Regions from separate parts of the Homo sapiens genome. Here all the other regions are linked to region 4. Evidence: fine-mapped QTL for protein levels in blood plasma. Region 4 holds a variant in brackets. A gene starts in each other region. All regions are shown on their forward strands.

Evidence for each region. A credible set is the group of variants that fine-mapping cannot tell apart. PIP is the chance, under the fine-mapping model, that this variant and not a neighbour inherited with it causes the effect. Protein levels are from antibody-based Olink assays in UK Biobank. Linkage for the fine-mapping came from a reference panel and not from the study's own genotypes, which makes the PIPs less certain.
Region 1: it holds the start of PCBD1, and the variant in region 4 is the best candidate, but not a certain one, in a credible set for the plasma level of the PCBD1 protein (UK Biobank, PIP 0.59).
Region 2: it holds the start of ACY1, and the variant in region 4 is the best candidate, but not a certain one, in a credible set for the plasma level of the ACY1 protein (UK Biobank, PIP 0.53).
Region 3: SORD starts here. The variant in region 4 is the best candidate, but not a certain one, in a credible set for the plasma level of the SORD protein (UK Biobank, PIP 0.64).

The regions. Positions count from the first base shown.
Region 1 is chr10:70,886,079-70,890,290 of GRCh38, forward strand. PCBD1 (pterin-4 alpha-carbinolamine dehydratase 1) reads right to left here and starts at 2,487. Exons shown (of 4, transcript NM_000281.4): 1 at 2,453-2,487. The coding sequence starts at 2,455. RefSeq lists silencers at 1,744-2,023, 2,354-2,603.
Region 2 is chr3:51,981,154-51,985,365 of GRCh38, forward strand. ACY1 (aminoacylase 1) reads left to right here and starts at 2,382. Exons shown (of 15, transcript NM_000666.3): 1 at 2,382-2,436; 2 at 2,894-3,005; 3 at 4,054-4,118; 4 at 4,208-4,212. The coding sequence starts at 2,912. ABHD14A-ACY1 (ABHD14A-ACY1 readthrough) reads left to right here. Exons shown (of 17, transcript NM_001316331.2): 4 at 2,894-3,005; 5 at 4,054-4,118; 6 at 4,208-4,212. It overlaps ABHD14A (abhydrolase domain containing 14A), which reads left to right. Exons shown (of 5, transcript NM_015407.5): 5 at 1-43. RefSeq lists an enhancer at 12-513 and a silencer at 1,967-2,416.
Region 3 is chr15:45,020,520-45,024,711 of GRCh38, forward strand. It overlaps SORD (sorbitol dehydrogenase), which reads left to right and starts at 2,676. Exons shown (of 9, transcript NM_003104.6): 1 at 2,676-2,830. The coding sequence starts at 2,765. RefSeq lists a silencer at 2,456-2,625 and an enhancer at 3,395-4,045.
Region 4 is chr22:43,927,063-43,931,062 of GRCh38, forward strand. PNPLA3 (patatin like domain 3, 1-acylglycerol-3-phosphate O-acyltransferase) reads left to right here. Exons shown (of 9, transcript NM_025225.3): 2 at 1-105; 3 at 1,762-1,827. Among named protein-coding and RNA genes, the nearest start is that of PNPLA3, 5.3 kb to the left of the region's middle. The variant G/A (reference allele first, on the strand shown) is at 1,913.

The sequences.
Region 1 (4,212 bases), not on the chromosome of region 4:
AGGCCTCAAGGGTGGCACCCTGCCCAGGAGGTGGGGTCCAGGCTCGTCTGCCGATAGGCCCTCAGGTCTTGGGTTTTAACACTCCACACACACACAAGGGAAATCACAAAAGCAATGTAATTCATATGACGGGGACAGAGAAGCACTCTTCCCCCACCCTGCCCTCAAAGCCTTACGGACCTTCCCTCCATGAGATTATTACATCAGTGAGGGCGTAAAAGCAAAATAAATCCCAGATGCAAATATGTTACTCCACAACCTCTCAGGAAGAGTACCCATGACTCTCCCCCCTTCCTTTTCCTATTATGTACTTCATCATATGCACCCCACGTCCCTACCGTAACTTTCACGTGTATTGAAGAGGAAACAGGCCTAGAGAGGGGAAACGACTTGTCTGCTGTTCTTTCCCGCCCACCCCTAGCCAGTGATGGCGCAGTGTTGTCTGTGTGTCAGCATTGCTGGGGCTGGACGAAGGAGCTACATTTAAAATAAGTGTCCATCCCATTCTTAGCCACACTGCAGCTGACCGCCGTTGGCACTACCTCTAGTAGGTCCTCAGTCATGCTCCCAGGCAGCCTCTGGTCCTGAGCCGCCAGGGCTAGGTTTCTCTGGTTTTCCGTCTGCTTTTCTGGCTGGTTGGGAAGCTCAGGCCAAAGTGGAAGGAACTTGGCCAAAGGCAGCTGGCAAACCTAGTGCCCCATCCTATTTACCTAATGTGCGAAGTGCCCTCAAGGCAGCCCAAATTGGCACAATTCAGGCCATGAGTGGAACCTCAGAGAAAGCAAGGAAGCAAGGGTCAGTTTCATCCTAGGAGGATCCAGGTCTAGGAGCTTAACAGATCCCAGAACCTAGGCTTCTAGAGTAGCACCACCCCAGGGCAGAAATAGAGTGCTGAATTGAAAAGATACCCTTAGGGGTGGGGAGGGAATGTGAGGGAGGTTGATTTAGCTTTTATGAGGCAGCCTGCAGACTGGACACCATGTGTTGATTGGCAGGAGTTTTGAGACCCGCTTTCACCATTTACCAGCCAGGTGGCTGTACCTCTCTTGGCAGAACCTCCACCTCCACAGATCATCATGAGGTGCCAATGGGACACTTTAGGAAACTCCACTGCTATAAAGCAAATGTCATCTGCATTACAAAAAAAAAACTTCCTAAGGCAAGCAGGCTTGTGATGGGCCTGGTAGCATTTGGGGTAGCTGAAGCATCGCAGTGCTTTCCTAAGTCCGTCTTTTTTCCCTGCTGTTTTCCCTCCTGAAAACGTGAGCTCTCTCTGGACTGATGTAGCTTGGCCCCTCTCTTCCCCTCGGCTCTGGATGACTATAGGGATTGAATGGCAGCAGCGATTTGCATCATCTGCCCAGTAGGTAGGTCTCTACTCCAGAGCTGGCCTTCTCCCCGTGGCTGACCGCCTGGTCCGTGTATCTAGACAACCAGAAGTCAGCCAAAGCATCAGAGCCCACTGTTTACTTCCTTGGCTCTTAAAGGGGTGGGTGAGTCCAGGTGAGCTCTTAGGAGGCTTCCCTTTCTCGGTAGAGCCTTCTGGAACCCCCCAGGTCGCACAGCCTGCGGCTGAACTGACAAACCTTCCAGGTGCCGGCTCTGGAGACAGAGAGGGGGACGCTGCCCCGTTTGCCTCCTCTGGCGAGGTGTGGGGAGTGGTTACCGATTTCCCAAGCCTGCATCTCTGGGACCTCAGCGCCCCTCACAAACAGCCCCACTCATCCTCCCTCCCCCAAGTCCCTCTCCTATCAAAAGGCCCTCCCAGTCTTGCCTGCTCCGAAGGCCTGTGGACCAGAAATGGTCTGATGAAGCTCGCGAGCTTACAGCAGAGCAAGGGCCCCGCCCCCGCCCCCGCCCCGGGGGTGGGTGGGGGAAGCTCACGGGAGGAGGGCTGCTCCAGCGCCACCAAGCCCCCGTGGCCTGGCACGGGCCTCAAGCCGGCGCGGGGAGTGGCTCTGGGGCCAGCATACCGGCGCAGAGCGTGAGTCCCAGGCAGACCCCGTACCCAGAGTGCCAGCGGGAAGGGGCAGCGGACAGGCACGCACACGAGCGCGCAAACTCAGCCTCCCTCTCGCTCCCACCCCAGTATAAAGCAGAATCGGGCCACCAAGGGGACGAGATCCGTGGACTCCTCCACGACTGTCTTCCCCGGCCCAGGAAGGTCGTAGGCCCCGCCCCCGGAAGGGTCCCGGAACAAGCACTGGCCGGGGTCAGGGCAGGCCTGGCCTCCCAACTGGGTGGGATTCGAACCCGCCACCGCCCCTCTCAGGGCTTCAGCTTCCCCTCCCCGCCGCCAGCGACAGAGAGCCGGGCAGAGACCCCACTTTCGGACCCCGGCGGCTCCGCAGGGGACTCGAAAAGACTTTCCCCCGCCCCTTCCCGCTCCCACCTCGCCCGCGGCTGCCCCGGCCCCGCTGCCCCGATCGCGGCCGCGCACCCCTGGACTCACCATGGCGCGGGCGGCAGCAGGTGGCCAGCGGAGAGGGCAGGCGGCGGCCGGGCGCGCAGGCTGCCGTCCCGGGGCGGGGCCGCGCTCGGGCCGCCCTCCGGTAATGATTAACGTCCCCAGCCAGGGACGCGCTCGGCCTGCTTGCTTCCAGCACTTTCCTCGCTGCTCAGAGCCATCCTCCGTGCTTGTTTCAGGGAGCTAGGGTGAAGCATGAGGGCTCCAAATGCCCGCTTCTGGGTTGGAATCCCACCCCGCCGCTTACAGCTGGGTGGCCCTGGGCGCCAGAATACCTATTTTTTTCTTTATAAAAATCTCTTATTTGGATATAATTGACATGCAATAAATTGCACATATTCAACGTGTACAATTTGATAAATTTTAATGTTTCCCTCGTGAGACCATCACCGAGATCAACATTATGAACATATCATCATCCCTGCAAGTTTTCCCTTGCCCTTTGGTAACCCCTTCCTCCCGAAACCACCTGGCCAGGCAAGCACTGATGTACTTTAGGTCACTATAAATTAGTTTGCATTTTCTAGAATTTTATGTAAATGGACCATAGAGTATATACTAGGCAGGATAACTGTTTTGGGGTTCAGCCATGTTGTTGCCTATATCAATGGTTTCTTCCTTTTATGGCTAAGTAAAATTTATTTTATAGTATTGCATTGTACAGATAGACTACAATTTGTTTAGCGATTCACTATTGGACATTTGCGTTGTTTACCTTTTGGCTATTACAAATAAAGCTGCTGCGAATATGGTGCACAAATCTTCGAAAGTACGTATGTTTTAATTTTCCTTGAGTAAACACTTAGGAATGGAATGCCTGGGTCATGTGGTAGGTGGACTTTTATAACTTATTAGGAAACTGCCATACTGTTTTGCAAAATGGTTGTATCATTTTATATTCCTAGCAGCAGTGTATGAAGGTTGCAGTTCTCTGTCCTCACCAACACTTGATATAGTCAGCCTTTTAAATTTTAATTGGTGTGTAGCAGTATCTCATTGTGGTTTTGAGTTTCCTTGATTAGTAATTGTATTGAATGTCTTTTCATGTACTTATTTGCTAAGGATAAGTTTTTTTTATTGAATAGCATGTTTGAATTTCCTGCCCATTAAAAAAGAAATTGGGTTGTCTTCTTATCGAGTTTTGAGGGTGTTTTATTCTGGATATAAGGACATGATCAGGCAGTGATTTGCAAATATTTTCTTTGCATTATCTTATGGTGCCTTTCAAAGAGCAAACGTTCTTAATTTTGATGAAATCCAATATATCAAATGTTTCTTTTATGGATTTCTATTTTGATGTTGTACACATAGAAATCTTGGCCTAACCCAAGATCAAAAGTTTTCTCCTATGTTTTATAGCTTTTGGTTTTACATTTAGTCTGTGATCCACTTTGAGTAAATATTTTTATATGCTTCAAGTTATAGATCCAGATGCACTTTTGCACATGGCGACTCAGTTATTCCTTTCTCCACTGAGTTGTCTTTGCACCTTTGTAAAATATCAATTGACTGTATACATGTGGGTTTATTTCTGAGCCCTTTCTTCTGTTCCATTGATCTGTTTGTCTGTCATGACAGAACACTACCTTGTCTTGATTATTATAGCTTTATAATAAGTCTTAGAGTCAGATTAGAAAAGTCCTCTCACATTTCACATTTTTCTATTAACTTTTATTCTTGTGCTCCACTTTTATTCCCCGCCCCCCACCACCGCCCATAGCAGCCTCTCTAATGTGTTAATGTGT
Region 2 (4,212 bases), not on the chromosome of region 4:
TCTCACAGACACAATAAAAAAGCATATTTGTCCTGCCTGGGAAGTGACAGGTTCCGTTTCCTGGTGTGCTGTGGGAAAGACGGGAGTGGGAGGCAAGTCTGGGACTACTTTGGGCCTGGGAGCTGGAGGGGATGTCCAGCAGTCTGAGAAGGCTAAGAATGCGCCACTTCCTAAGTGCCTGGCCTCACCACTCTGTGCCTGAGTTTCCTTATCTGTAAAACGGGTATGATGGCAACACCTAGGTTGGAGGGTGGTTATAGGACTGAATGAGTCTGGATAACTGAGTACTTGGCCACATAAGGCTGGGGAATTGCTGGTGGGAGGCGGGGTGTATTACTGCTGCTGCATGACCACAGGGATTGGTGGGAAATCCAGGGTCTGGACAGCCAAGCCAAGGAAGTCAGGAACCTAGAGGGTATGGGGAACGCGATTTAACAATTAGCCAGCATTGGCCGGGCGCAGTGGCTCACACCTGTAATCCCAGCACTTTGGGAGGCCGAGGCAGGCGGATCACGAGGTCAGGAGATCGAGACCATCCTGACTAACACGGTGAAAACCCGTCTCTACTAAAAATACAAAAAATTAGCCGAGCGTGGTGGCGGGTGACTTTAGTCCCAGCTACTCAGTAGGCTGAGGCAGGAGAATGGTGTGAACCCGGGAGGCGGAGCTTGCAGTGAGCCAAGACCGAGATCACACCACTGCACTCCACCCTGGGTGACAAAGCGAGTGAGACTCCGTCTCAAAAAAAAAAAAAAAAAAAAAAAAAAAAAAAAAAAAAAAAACCAGCATTAGCTGGGCACTGTGGCTCACATCTGTAATCCCAGCACCTTGGGAGGCCAAGGCGGGTGGATCACCTGAGGTCAGGAGTTCAAGACCACCCTGGCCAACATGACAAACCCTGTCTCTACTAAAAATACAAAAATTAGCCCAGCGTGGTGGCACGCACCTGTAATCCCAGCTACTCTGGAGGCTGAGGCAGGAGAATCACTTGAACCCAGGAGGCGGAGTTTTCAGCGAGCCGAGAAGGAGCCACTGCACTCCAGCCTGGGCAGCAGAGTGAGACTCCATCTCAAAAAAATAAATAGCTAAATAATTAGCCAGCATTGTTATGAGTTAAAGTCTATTTGCCCGCATGAATAAATAGGTAAATAATTAGCCAGCATTGTTGTGAGTTAAAATCTATTTGCCCGCATGACAGAGTGAGACTCTGTATCAAAAAAATAACTAAATAAAGAATTATCCAGCATTGTTATGAGTTAAAGTCCATTTGCCCCCATGTTATGTGTGAGCAGCCAAGACTTAAACCTCAGGAAAGGTGGGACAGAACCCTTCCCACAGCGTGCCTCCTTGGCCTAGAGATTGAAGTCTTTGTCCCTCACCCTTCCCCAAGCTGACTCAGCCCCTGGAGCAGAGGGCAGACCTGGCTGGGAGTACAAAGGGCAGCTGGGGCACAAGTGGGCAACTGCAGCTGTGGCCTGCAGGGGGCCAGTGGTACACCTGTGCCTGTTTAGCCTCCCCCTCTGGTGGCTGCAGAAGAGCCAGTTTCCTCACACTGTCCATCCAGGGTCACAATTACATCCATTCACAGTGACTTCATCACACCCACCCACCATCTCACACTGTCACATACACAATCATATCCACTGATAGACTGCACACGCAGTGGCACGCTTAAACCGTCACACGTGCTCTTGTCCATGCATTCATTCCCATTCTAGGCACTGTCCGGGCTCGGCACGGCCCCGGGCAGAACCTTGCAGGAAGTGGAGCTCACAGCCTCCTGGAGTTCAGTGTGGGCAGACAGACATTGGCCAATAACTTCAGTACAAGTGGAGCTGAGGCGTCAGGGAGGACCTCCCCGAGGGGCTGAGGCCTGCAGTGGGGAGCCGTTGGAGACTTGCCGAGGAGGGCGAGGGCGCAGGCCCAGGGCTTTGCAGCTCTGCATCTTGAGAGCCTCGGGGCGGCCCCCTTTCCTCCCGCCCTATCCGGGGGCTGAAGGAGGAGGCGCCCTTAGGGGACGGGACCGTCCTGAGCTCCCGGCGCATACCTGGGGGCAGGAGTGGCAGGCGTGTCGTGTGGGGCGGGGCGAGCCTGTCAGAGCAGGGCCAGCCCGGAGCTCGCAACTCGCGGGGCGGCGCTGGCCGCGGCGGCCGCTGCCCGGGGACGGGATCCGGATCTAATCCTCCAGTAATCTCGCTGAGGCCCGAACCAGAGGCGGGCGGGGACATCCGCGCCGACGCGGCCGCTGGCGCCGGGACGGCCCTCACTGACGGTCTTCGGTCTCCGCCCCGACATCCGGCCTCGGCCACGTGGTGGGCGGACCGGGGCGGTCCTGAGCCTGCGACCTCGCAGGCGACCTCGCTGGACCCTAAGTCCAGGCCACAGTCAGGGAAGGGCGCTGAGAGGCGAGCGTGAGCCCAGCGACAGGAGAGTGAGGTGGGGGCCCTGGGGAGGGATAGAGGGACTGGGGCTCCGTGGCTTGAAAGCCGGGCAACTGGGAGGCGTTGGGGTTTTTCTTGTTTGTTTTTTGTTTTTGTTTTTGCCTTTTTTTTTTTTTAGGAGGGCGGGGGGAGTACAAGTCTGGGTTCAAACCTTGCTCAGCTACTCTATGAGCTGTCCTTGAACCTCTCTGAGCCTCTCAGCTTTCTCCTCTGTAAAGTGGGCATTCTGAGCACAAACTTCATGGGGCTCTTTTGGGGATTAAATAAGGAAATGTGCTGGAAGCAGACAGCCCAGCGCCTGAAACAGAATGGGTGCTCCTTAATGGGGGCTCCGAAACACGGTATCCTACCCCTGTGGGAAGTCCGGGAGCCGCCGTGGGGACAGGCTGTGTGCAGGAGCTCACCATTTCCAGGGTCTTGGAGGGGTAGTTAGCCATTCACTTTGCCCCCAGCTCACCACGCGCAGCGCCATGACCAGCAAGGGTCCCGAGGAGGAGCACCCATCGGTGACGCTCTTCCGCCAGTACCTGCGTATCCGCACTGTCCAGCCCAAGCCTGACTATGGTGAGAAGACGGTGGTTCCAGAGCCTGTGACGGGGCCTAAGGGACGGGGACTGTGCTCTAAACCAGCCTCCAACCCCTGTCACCCAGCTGAGCCCCACTCTGCTGTCCCAAATGGCTCCCCAACCCCTCCAGCCATTCCCCAAGTAAATAGACTGAGGCAGCCCCTCCAGGTTAGGGAGGAACCCTTTCCCCAGAGACTCTGCTGCTGACCAAGGTTACTCCTGGCAGCTGGTTAAAGAAAAACTTCACCTCACTCTCCAGGGCAGGAGTGGTGGGGGAAGCCTGAGGCAGCCACAGGGAAAGGAGAGGCCCTCCAGAAGCCCACTGGGGCTGGACAAAGGCCACAGCCCTTAGGGAGTCAAGCTTGGTGGCTAGGGCCTGGGAGGTGGCTCCTGCCTGTTATCCCAGCACTTCAGGAGGTTGAGGCTGGCAGATTGCTTGGGCCCAGGAGTTCAAGACTAGCTTGAGCAACATGGCAAGACTCTGTCTCTACAGAAAAAATACAAAAATTAGTCAGGAATGGTGGCACACCTGTAGTCCCAGCTACTCCAGAGGTTGAGGTGGGAGGATCGCTTGAGCCTGGGAGGTTGAGGCTGCAGTGAGCCGAGATCGCACCACTTCACTCCTGCCTTGGTGACAGAGTGAGACCCTGTCTCAAAAAAAAAAAAAAAAAAAGGAAAAGAAAAAAAAAAAACTTAGTGGCTGGGAATTGTGTACATGGGTCCAAATTCCTCCTCTGTGATTAATCAGCTGAGAGATGGTGGGTGAATCTCTTCATGTCTCTGTGCCATAGTTTCCCATATTTAAGGAAGATAACACCTTCCTCCAACCCTGTGTCCAGACATCCCCCTGGACTTCCAGAAAGGGTCACTGAGTAGCCAAAAATATCTTCTTTCTTGGGGATGGAAATGCAAGCATCTCTGAGGGATATGGAGTGTGTCGGGGAGGCAGCAGCCCATTTCTGGGTATGCTCCACTCTCCGGGCTGCCTGGGCTGGTGGGAAGCTGTGGGTAGGCAGAAGCAGCCCCAAGACACTCTGTGCCTCCAGGAGCTGCTGTGGCTTTCTTTGAGGAGACAGCCCGCCAGCTGGGCCTGGGCTGTCAGAAAGTAGAGGTGAGCCTGGGGCCCTAAGCGGGGAAGGGAGGTGGGCCTGGGCACTTCCTCACCCTGCTCAGACCACCTACCCTCCTGACCATCTCCAGGTGGC
Region 3 (4,192 bases), not on the chromosome of region 4:
TGGGAAGTGTCTCCCAGTTAGGCTACATGGGGGCCAGGGACCCACTTGAGGAGGCAGTCTGTCCATTCTCAGAGCTCAAACACTGTACTGGGAGAGCCACTGCTCTCTTCAGAGCTGTCAGACAGGGACGTTTAAGTCTGCAGAAGTTTCTGCTGTCTTTTGTTCACCTATGCCCTGCCCCCAGAGGTGAGGTCTACAGAGGCAGCAGACCTTGCAGAGCTGCGGTGGGCTCTGCCCAGTTCAACCTTCCCGGCTGCTTTGTTTACCTACTCAAGCCTCAGCAATGGCGGACGCCCCTCCCCTGCCAGGCTGCTGCCTCAGACTGCTGTGCTAGTAGTGAGCAAGGCTCTGTGGGCGTGGGACCCACTGAGCCAGGCACAGGATTTAATCTCCTGGTGTGCCATTTGCTAAGACCGTTGGAAAAGTGCAGTATTTGGGTGAGAGTGTCCTGATTTTCCAGGTACAGTCTGTCACAGCTTTCCTTGGCTAGGAAAGGGAAATCCCCCAACCGCTTGCGCTTCCCGGGTGAGGCAATGCCCCTCCCTGCTTCGGCTCACCCTCCATGGGCTGCAGCCACTGTCCAACCAGTCCCAATGAGATGAACCAGGTACCTCAGTTGGAAATGCAGAAATCACCGTCTTCTGCATCGATCACACTGGGAGCTGCAGACCGGAGCTGTTCCTATTTGGCCATCTTGGAACGGAATCTGGATGATTTACTTTTGGCTACCAATTTGGAAGCCTCATGCCAGCAGGCTACTCTAGATCTCTTGAACTTTCTAGGTAATCAAGCGGGCAAGGTGTCTAAACTGAAAGCCCAGCTCTGCCTACAACAAGTCAAATATCTAGGCCTAATCTTAGCCAGAGGAACCAGGGCCCTCAGCAAGGAACAAATACAGCCTATACTGGCACCGGTCCCTCAAGGCGTAGCACCAACCAGATTGATAAACTCACTTATCTGACCTTGTGGCCCTCGCCCAGAAACTGACTCAGTCCAAGAAGACAGCTTAGATCCCCTATGATTTCATCTCTGACCCAAACAATCAGCACTCCTGACTCACTGGCCTTTCCCCACCCATCAAACTATCCTTAAAAACTCTGAGTCCCCGTATGCTCGAATGCTTGGGGAGCCGGATTTGAGCAATAATGAAATTCCAGTCTCCTGCATAGCTGGTTCTGCATGAACTCTTTCCCTATTGCAGTTCCCCTGTCTTGATAAATTAGTTTTGTCTAGGCAGCAGGCAAGGTGAATCCATTGGGCGGTTACATATTGGGGAGGGGGGACTGTAAGGGAATGAAATCCTGAGCATTATCCTCAAAGGAGGGAGGGGCCTTATAGACTTAGGCCTATCTAGAAGCGCCTCTCTCCTCAGAGAGTAAAACCTCACTGTTTCTCAGAGGGCTGAGAGGCTTGAAGGAAGAGTTTGGGCAGAAACTCTGCTTTGAATAGAAGCAGCAGATCCAGTTGAGAGAAAGAGGTTCACAAATTCCATTTCATGGCTTTTTTTTTTTTAAAGACAGATTTTCACTCTTGTTGCCCAGGCTGGTGTTGAATGGCATGATCTCAGCTCACTGCAACCTCTGCTTCCCAGGTTCAAGCTATTCTCCTGTCTCAGCCTCCCGAGTAGCTGAGATTAAGGCGCATGCCACCATGCCCGGCTAATTTTTGTATTTTTAGTAGAGACGGGGTTTTCACCATATTGGTCAGGCTGGTCTCGAACTCCTGACCTCAGGTGATCCACCTGCCTCGGCTTCCCAAAGTGCTGGGATTACAGGCAAGAGCCACTGCGCCCGGCCTCATGTCTTTTTTATACTTAAGCACCAGGCCCATGTAATGATGCACGAATTCATTTACTCCTACTCGTGCCAGGCCCTTTCCTGGGGGCTGGAGACAAAGGGCCGACGTGGACGCTGCGTCATGGTAGCACCTGTCTCGCAAAGTGCACACCGTGCTCCACCCACAGCCTCAGCATTCTCGTTGCTAGGAATATGGACCCTCAGGCAGCACCTCAGACCTAGACCTACTGTATCAGAATCTCTGTGCTGGTCCTGAGAATGTGCATTCTCAACAGCGCCTCACATTCCCCACCCCAATTCTTCTGCAGCTAACGTTTGAGAGCGCTGGTCTGGTGCCTACTGCCTCTGCAGGCGGTTTTCAAGGCAGCCGTGTGTGCTTGCATGTGAGGCGGCAAAAACAGCGCGCTGCAGGGCCGGCGCGGTGGCTCACGCCTGTAATCCCAGCACTTTGGGAGGCGGAGGCGGGTGGATCACGAGGTCAGGATATCGAGACCATCCTGGCTAACACGGTGAAACCCCGTCTCTACTAAACAAAAATACGTGGTGGTGGGCGCCTGTAGTCCCAGCTATTCGGGAGGCTGAGGCAGGAGAATGGCTTGAACCCGGGAGGCAGAGCTTGCAGTGAGCCGGGATCGCACCACTGTACTCCAGCCTCGGCGACAAACAAACAAACAAACAAAAAAAACAGCGCGCTGCAGATGGAGCCAGCACCCGGGCTTCTCGCTCCCAGCCCCCTCCCGAAGCCCCGCCCCGCCTCCGGGTCTGGAGGAGGCTGGGAAGCCCCGCCCCTCCACGCTAGCGCCGCCCAGGCTGGCACAAAGGAGGAAGCCTAGTCCCGCCCCTGCGTGCGGCGCTTCTCCCAGGCCCCACCTTCCATCCAGTGCCCTGGACCCTCGGCTGGGTAGCGCCACCAGAGCGACCAAACGTCCCGCGCCTTCCAGGCCGCACTCCAGAGCCAAAAGAGCTCCATGGCGGCGGCGGCCAAGCCCAACAACCTTTCCCTGGTGGTGCACGGACCGGGGGACTTGCGCCTGGTAAGCTGGGAAGGAGGGTGGGAAGCATACCGATCCTGCCTCACTCTCCTCTGAGCCCAGCCATAGTCCTGGCTTCCCACTTCCAGCCTGGCGCCGGCCCCGCACCTTAAGCGCCCTGGCTGCCCAGATCCCAGCTGGTTCCCCTCGGGGTGTGGGGGCAGCAGGTAGTGGCTGTTGCGAAGGGCAGGGATCTAGTCGTGTGCCTCCCGGAACCTAGCCCCGTGGCTGGCACGTGGCCGGTGCCCAGGACGGTTGCAAACTGTTTGAATGAAGCTTTCTCTCTCCTTTGCCAGCTGCAGATTCATAGTCCAGCCTCTTGTCATTGACCTTTCCAAAGGAAATGCTAAGGCTGTCTGAATTATCGGGGCAGACCGTGCAGAGCAGAGAAAGGGGGGCCAGAGGACACTTAGAAACAGCAGAACTTGTATTTAACTCCCTTGCTTGGGACTGATAAACCTCCCTTGCAGGATTATGATGATCACAAGAGTACTCAGCACTTAGTACGTGCTCAGGAAGTGCCAGCTCCTTCTCCTTTCCTTCCAGTCTAGGCCTCCATCTCCAGAACCCCTGCTGTTCCCCTTGCCTGTGCCAGACTTGTGGATCTTGATAGCTCCCTTGTCTGTAAGGATCCTTCTCTCCCTAAGACCCTGTCTGGTTCACTTTCCAGCAGTTTTTCTTTCCAATCCCGTGCCTCTGTCCCTTTAGGAGCATTCTGTATGTGTGTCCTCTGCCTTAGACCCTGCCTTTTGCTCCCTGGCTTGTGGCACCAAAGTTTAGGAAGTGGCTGAGTCAGCAGCCTAGTCATGCCAAGCCTCCCTTGACAAAGTCCCTCTCAGATGGGCCTGGGATGGCAGTGGGTATGTGGGATGAGTGCCAGCCATCTCTGCTGCTCCCCTGTACCTCTTTTCCCTCAAAGTACATGCGTCAGTATGTAAACTGCAGTAATTCAGAAGCTTATCCAGGTTAGCAGTTCTTGACTATTTAAGAATCTGTGGTGTCCCCTCCACAGAATGCAAATAGACTGAGTTTGGCAACAATTTCAGACTGCTCAAGGACTCCCTTTAAGCCGCTCTAAGCCCCTCTATAGAACCCTTGTCCCAGCTGACTCTCCATCTCCTCAGTTGAAGAAAGTACCATACCCAAGGTGATAGGTTTTGTTAGTTAACAGAGCCACGACAAGGACTCAGATGTTCAGACTCCCCATTCTAGTGCTCATTCCACTCTTTGGAGCCTCCACCCAAGGTCCTGAATTAAAGTGAGGCTGTTAGTGTTTACTGTTGCAAATGCCAGATGGTATTATGAGTAAGGGAAAGTGGTCCAGCTCTACCCAGCTTGCAGAGTGATTTCCAACTCAGTACTTCA
Region 4 (4,000 bases):
GTCCACCAGCTCATCTCCGGCAAAATAGGCATCTCTCTTACCAGAGTGTCTGATGGGGAAAACGTTCTGGTGTCTGACTTTCGGTCCAAAGACGAAGTCGTGGATGTAAGCAGTTTGCTTATCTGGACGTTGTCAAGTTAGAAAAGCTGTTTTGGGATGGGTGTGGTGGCTCATGCCTGTCATCCCGGCACTTTGGGAGGCCGAAGCGGGTGGGTTGCTTGAGCCCAGGAGCTCGAGACCAACATGATGAAACCCAGTCTCTACAAAAATTACAGAAAAATTAGCTAGGCATGGTGTTGTGGGCCCATAGTCCCAGCTACTAGGGAGGCTGAGGCAGGAGAATTGCTTGAGCCTGGGAGGTGGAGGTTGCAGTAAGTCATGATCATGCCACTGTACTCCAGCCCGGGTGACAGTGAGATGCTGTCTGGAAAAAAAAAAAAAAGAAAGACTGTTTTGTTTTGGAAGCAACACAGGCAGTTGTAGGCCCCCTGTGCCAGAGTGACATAAACTCTGTACACCTCCAGTGATTTGGTCCATGTTTGTAAACCCTGAATGTTCCAGGGCAGTTTCTTTTCTTCACTTTTTATCTCTTTTTTTTGGGTGGGGGGGCGGGGTACAGAGTCTTGCTCTGTCTCCCAGGCTGGAGTGCAGTGGCGCAATCTCAACCTCCCGAGGAGCTGGGACTACAGGCACAGGCCATCACACCTTGCTAATGTTTGTACTTTTTGTAGAGACGGGGTTTTGCCCTGTTGCCCAGGCTGGTCCCAAACTCCTGCACCCAAGTAATCTGCCCACCTCTGCCTGGCAGTTACAATTTCAAATAATTCCTCCCTTTCCTTCAACACTTGGCTCATGACCGTCCAGTCCAAGGAACCTGTCCTGCAGGTGTGCCTCTCCCGAGCTTCCTCTATGCATCTTCCATAATGAAGATGCCTTCTCACTGGAAACCCTACAAGGGTGGGAACGTGCCTTATTTGCCTGTATCCTCAGGGTCTAGCAGAGAGAAGATAATTTGTAATACCAAAACACCATTAAATTCAGCTGATGCTTTCATAAGCGCTCCTTGGAGGAAGGACTCCATTTACTTGACAGATCTGTGCAAGACAGCAGCCTGGCGCGTCTAACCTGCAGCCAGTTGCATCCTCTGTTTAACCTTGTTTGCGGAAGCTTTCTCTAAACAGCCAGCACTTGTCTGTTCCCACATGGGTCCGTTCTCCCAGTGAATCACCGTGGTGCCTGCTGACTGCTCTGTAGCACAGTGCTTCGCAAAGTGTGATCCTGGGACCAGCAGAGCAGCAGCTCCTTTGAGCTTATTGGAATGGCAGACCCTCAGGTCCCACCTCTGACCTGCTGCATGGGAATTCTGGGGAGGGACGCAGAATCTCTGGTTCCACAGGCTCTCCGGTGATGCTAATGAATACCGGCATTTGAACAGCACCGATCTAGCCCCTTTCAGTCCATGAGCCAACAACCCTTGGTCCTGTCTGTGGTGACCCAGTGTGACTCTCATGGGGAGCAAGGAGAGGAAGTTGAAGTTCACTGACAGGGTTGTTAAGGGGATTATGCAATAGATGAGACCCATGGGCCTGAAGTCCGAGGGTGTATGTTAGTTCCCCGTTCTTTTGACCCATGGATTAACCTACTCTGTGCAAAGGGCATTTTCAAGTTTGTTGCCCTGCTCACTTGGAGAAAGCTTATGAAGGATCAGGAAAATTAAAAGGGTGCTCTCGCCTATAACTTCTCTCTCCTTTGCTTTCACAGGCCTTGGTATGTTCCTGCTTCATCCCCTTCTACAGTGGCCTTATCCCTCCTTCCTTCAGAGGCGTGGTAAGTCGGCTTTCTCTGCTAGCGCTGAGTCCTGGGGGCCTCTGAAGTGTGCTCACACATCTCCTGCCTGCAGGGCACTGGTGTC[G/A]GGCACCTCAGGGTCTGTCCCATGGTGGAGCCCCATGCCTCACTGCCTTTCAGACAGAGTAGCCACAGCTGGCCCTATTTCCAGGCTACCCGGGCAGCAAAACTTACTGCATGTGTAATTAATTATTTGGCTATCTGTAAGGTAAACTGGCTGGTTCACTTAATCTGCACCTTAAGCATCAGATAGCTTCTCAGTGATCTAGTTAAACTATATGATGTTGGCCAGGCGCGGTGGCTCATGTCTGTAATCCCAGCACTTTGGGAGCCTGAAGCAGGCAGATCACTTGAGGTCAGGAGTTCGAGACCAGCCTGGCCAACAGTGTGAAACTCTGTCTCTCCTAAAAATACAAAAATTAGCTGGGCATGGTGGTGTGCACCTGTAATCCCAGCTGCTCGGGAGGCTGAGGCAGGAGAATTGCTTGAACTTGGGAGGCGGAAGTTGCAGTGAGCCAAGATCGCACCACTGCACTCCATCCTGGGTGACAGAGCGAGACTCTATCTCAAAAAGAAAAAAAAAAAAAAGGTAAATAAAGTATATGACACTGAAGAATCTGTTACCCCTGGAAGGTGGAGCTTTACTCTTAGGGGGAACTATAACAGTCATATATATATATTTTTTTCTTTTCTTTTTTTTTTTTTTTGAGATGGAGTCTGGCTCTGTCGCCCAGGCTGGAGTGCAGTGGTGCAATCTCGGCTCACTGCAACCTCCACCTCACAGGTTCAGGCAATTCTCCTGCCTCAACCTCCCGAGTAGCTGGGATTACAGGTGCCTGCCGTCACGCCAAGCTAATTTTTGTATTTTTAGTAGAGACAGGGTTTCATCATATTGGCCAGGCTGGTCTCCAACTCCTGACCTCAGGTGATCCGCCCGCCTTGGCCTCCCAAAGTGCTGAGATTACAGGCGTGAGCCATGGTGCCCGGCCAACAATCACATGTGTTGTAAACAACAACAAAAATCTGTCAGCCTGGTCTAACCTAGATTTGTGCTTTGTTTTGTTTTGCCACTTTGTGATGCACAGGAGGAAGTTTAGGCTGTAAAATACTAGCCTTTTAGGGTAATTTTTGAACTCACAAGAGCAGCAGCGGAACCTTTGATGCAATCCTGTATGTAGCACCAGCAGAGCCACGTGGCAGAGGGACTCGCATTAGGAGCCTCCCATTACAGACTACGTGCTCCTGTGCGTTATCTTATAGGGTCCCCACAACCAAGGGGAGATGTGATTATTCATCCTGTGTGGCTGTGGGGAACTTGAGAGTCATACTTGCCCAAAGAGCACGGCCAGCGAGCTTGCACCCAGGTCACTCTCTGCTCCTCTGTCAGAACAGGGCATGTCTTGGTTCACTGCAGGGCGGCTCTTCTCATTCTCTGTAGTTTGGGGTCCAGGATAGTGGTCCACGGAGCCACTGGAGTGCCCAGCTACTGAGTGACCAAAGCATATTTTGGATTTCCGACATTGCCACAGCATGGTTGGGCATCAGCAGGACCCCAACCCCTTGTTATGCTGGTGGCTTTATGTGGTTATTTGATCTTCCCCAGAACTCAGCAGGAGTGCACCCAGCAGCACCGTAGTGATGCTCTCTGGCTCCCCAGTGCACGGTTCTGGCTTTCCTTCCTGGTCGAGAGTTTCAAGCCCTCTGGGTCCTACTCTGTCCTTTTCAGCCCATAGCTTTGTTCAAAAGCTGCTGGCAGTGTTCAGATTTGGCTGAGTTCAGTGAATATGTGCATTGGCTGATTTCTGAGCCATGCCAGGGGGATGGAGAAGCCGAAGCAGGAGTGTTTGTTCTGCAGGCTCTGGAGTAGGCATTGGGTCTGTGCCGGCTCACTTGCTAGTCTTGCATCCTTCCCCAACCCCCTCTGGGGATGTCTGGCCACATCAGAAGACAGTTTGGGTTGTCAGAACTGGGGGAGTACCAGGCCGAGGTGGGTGGATCATGAGGTCAGGAGATCGAGACCATCCTGGCTAACACAGTGAAACCTCATCTCTACTAAACATACGAAAAAAATTAGCTGGGCGTGGTGGCGGGCGCCTGTAGTCCCAGCTACTCGGGAGGCTGAGGCAGGAGAATGGTGTGAACCCGGGGGGCGGAG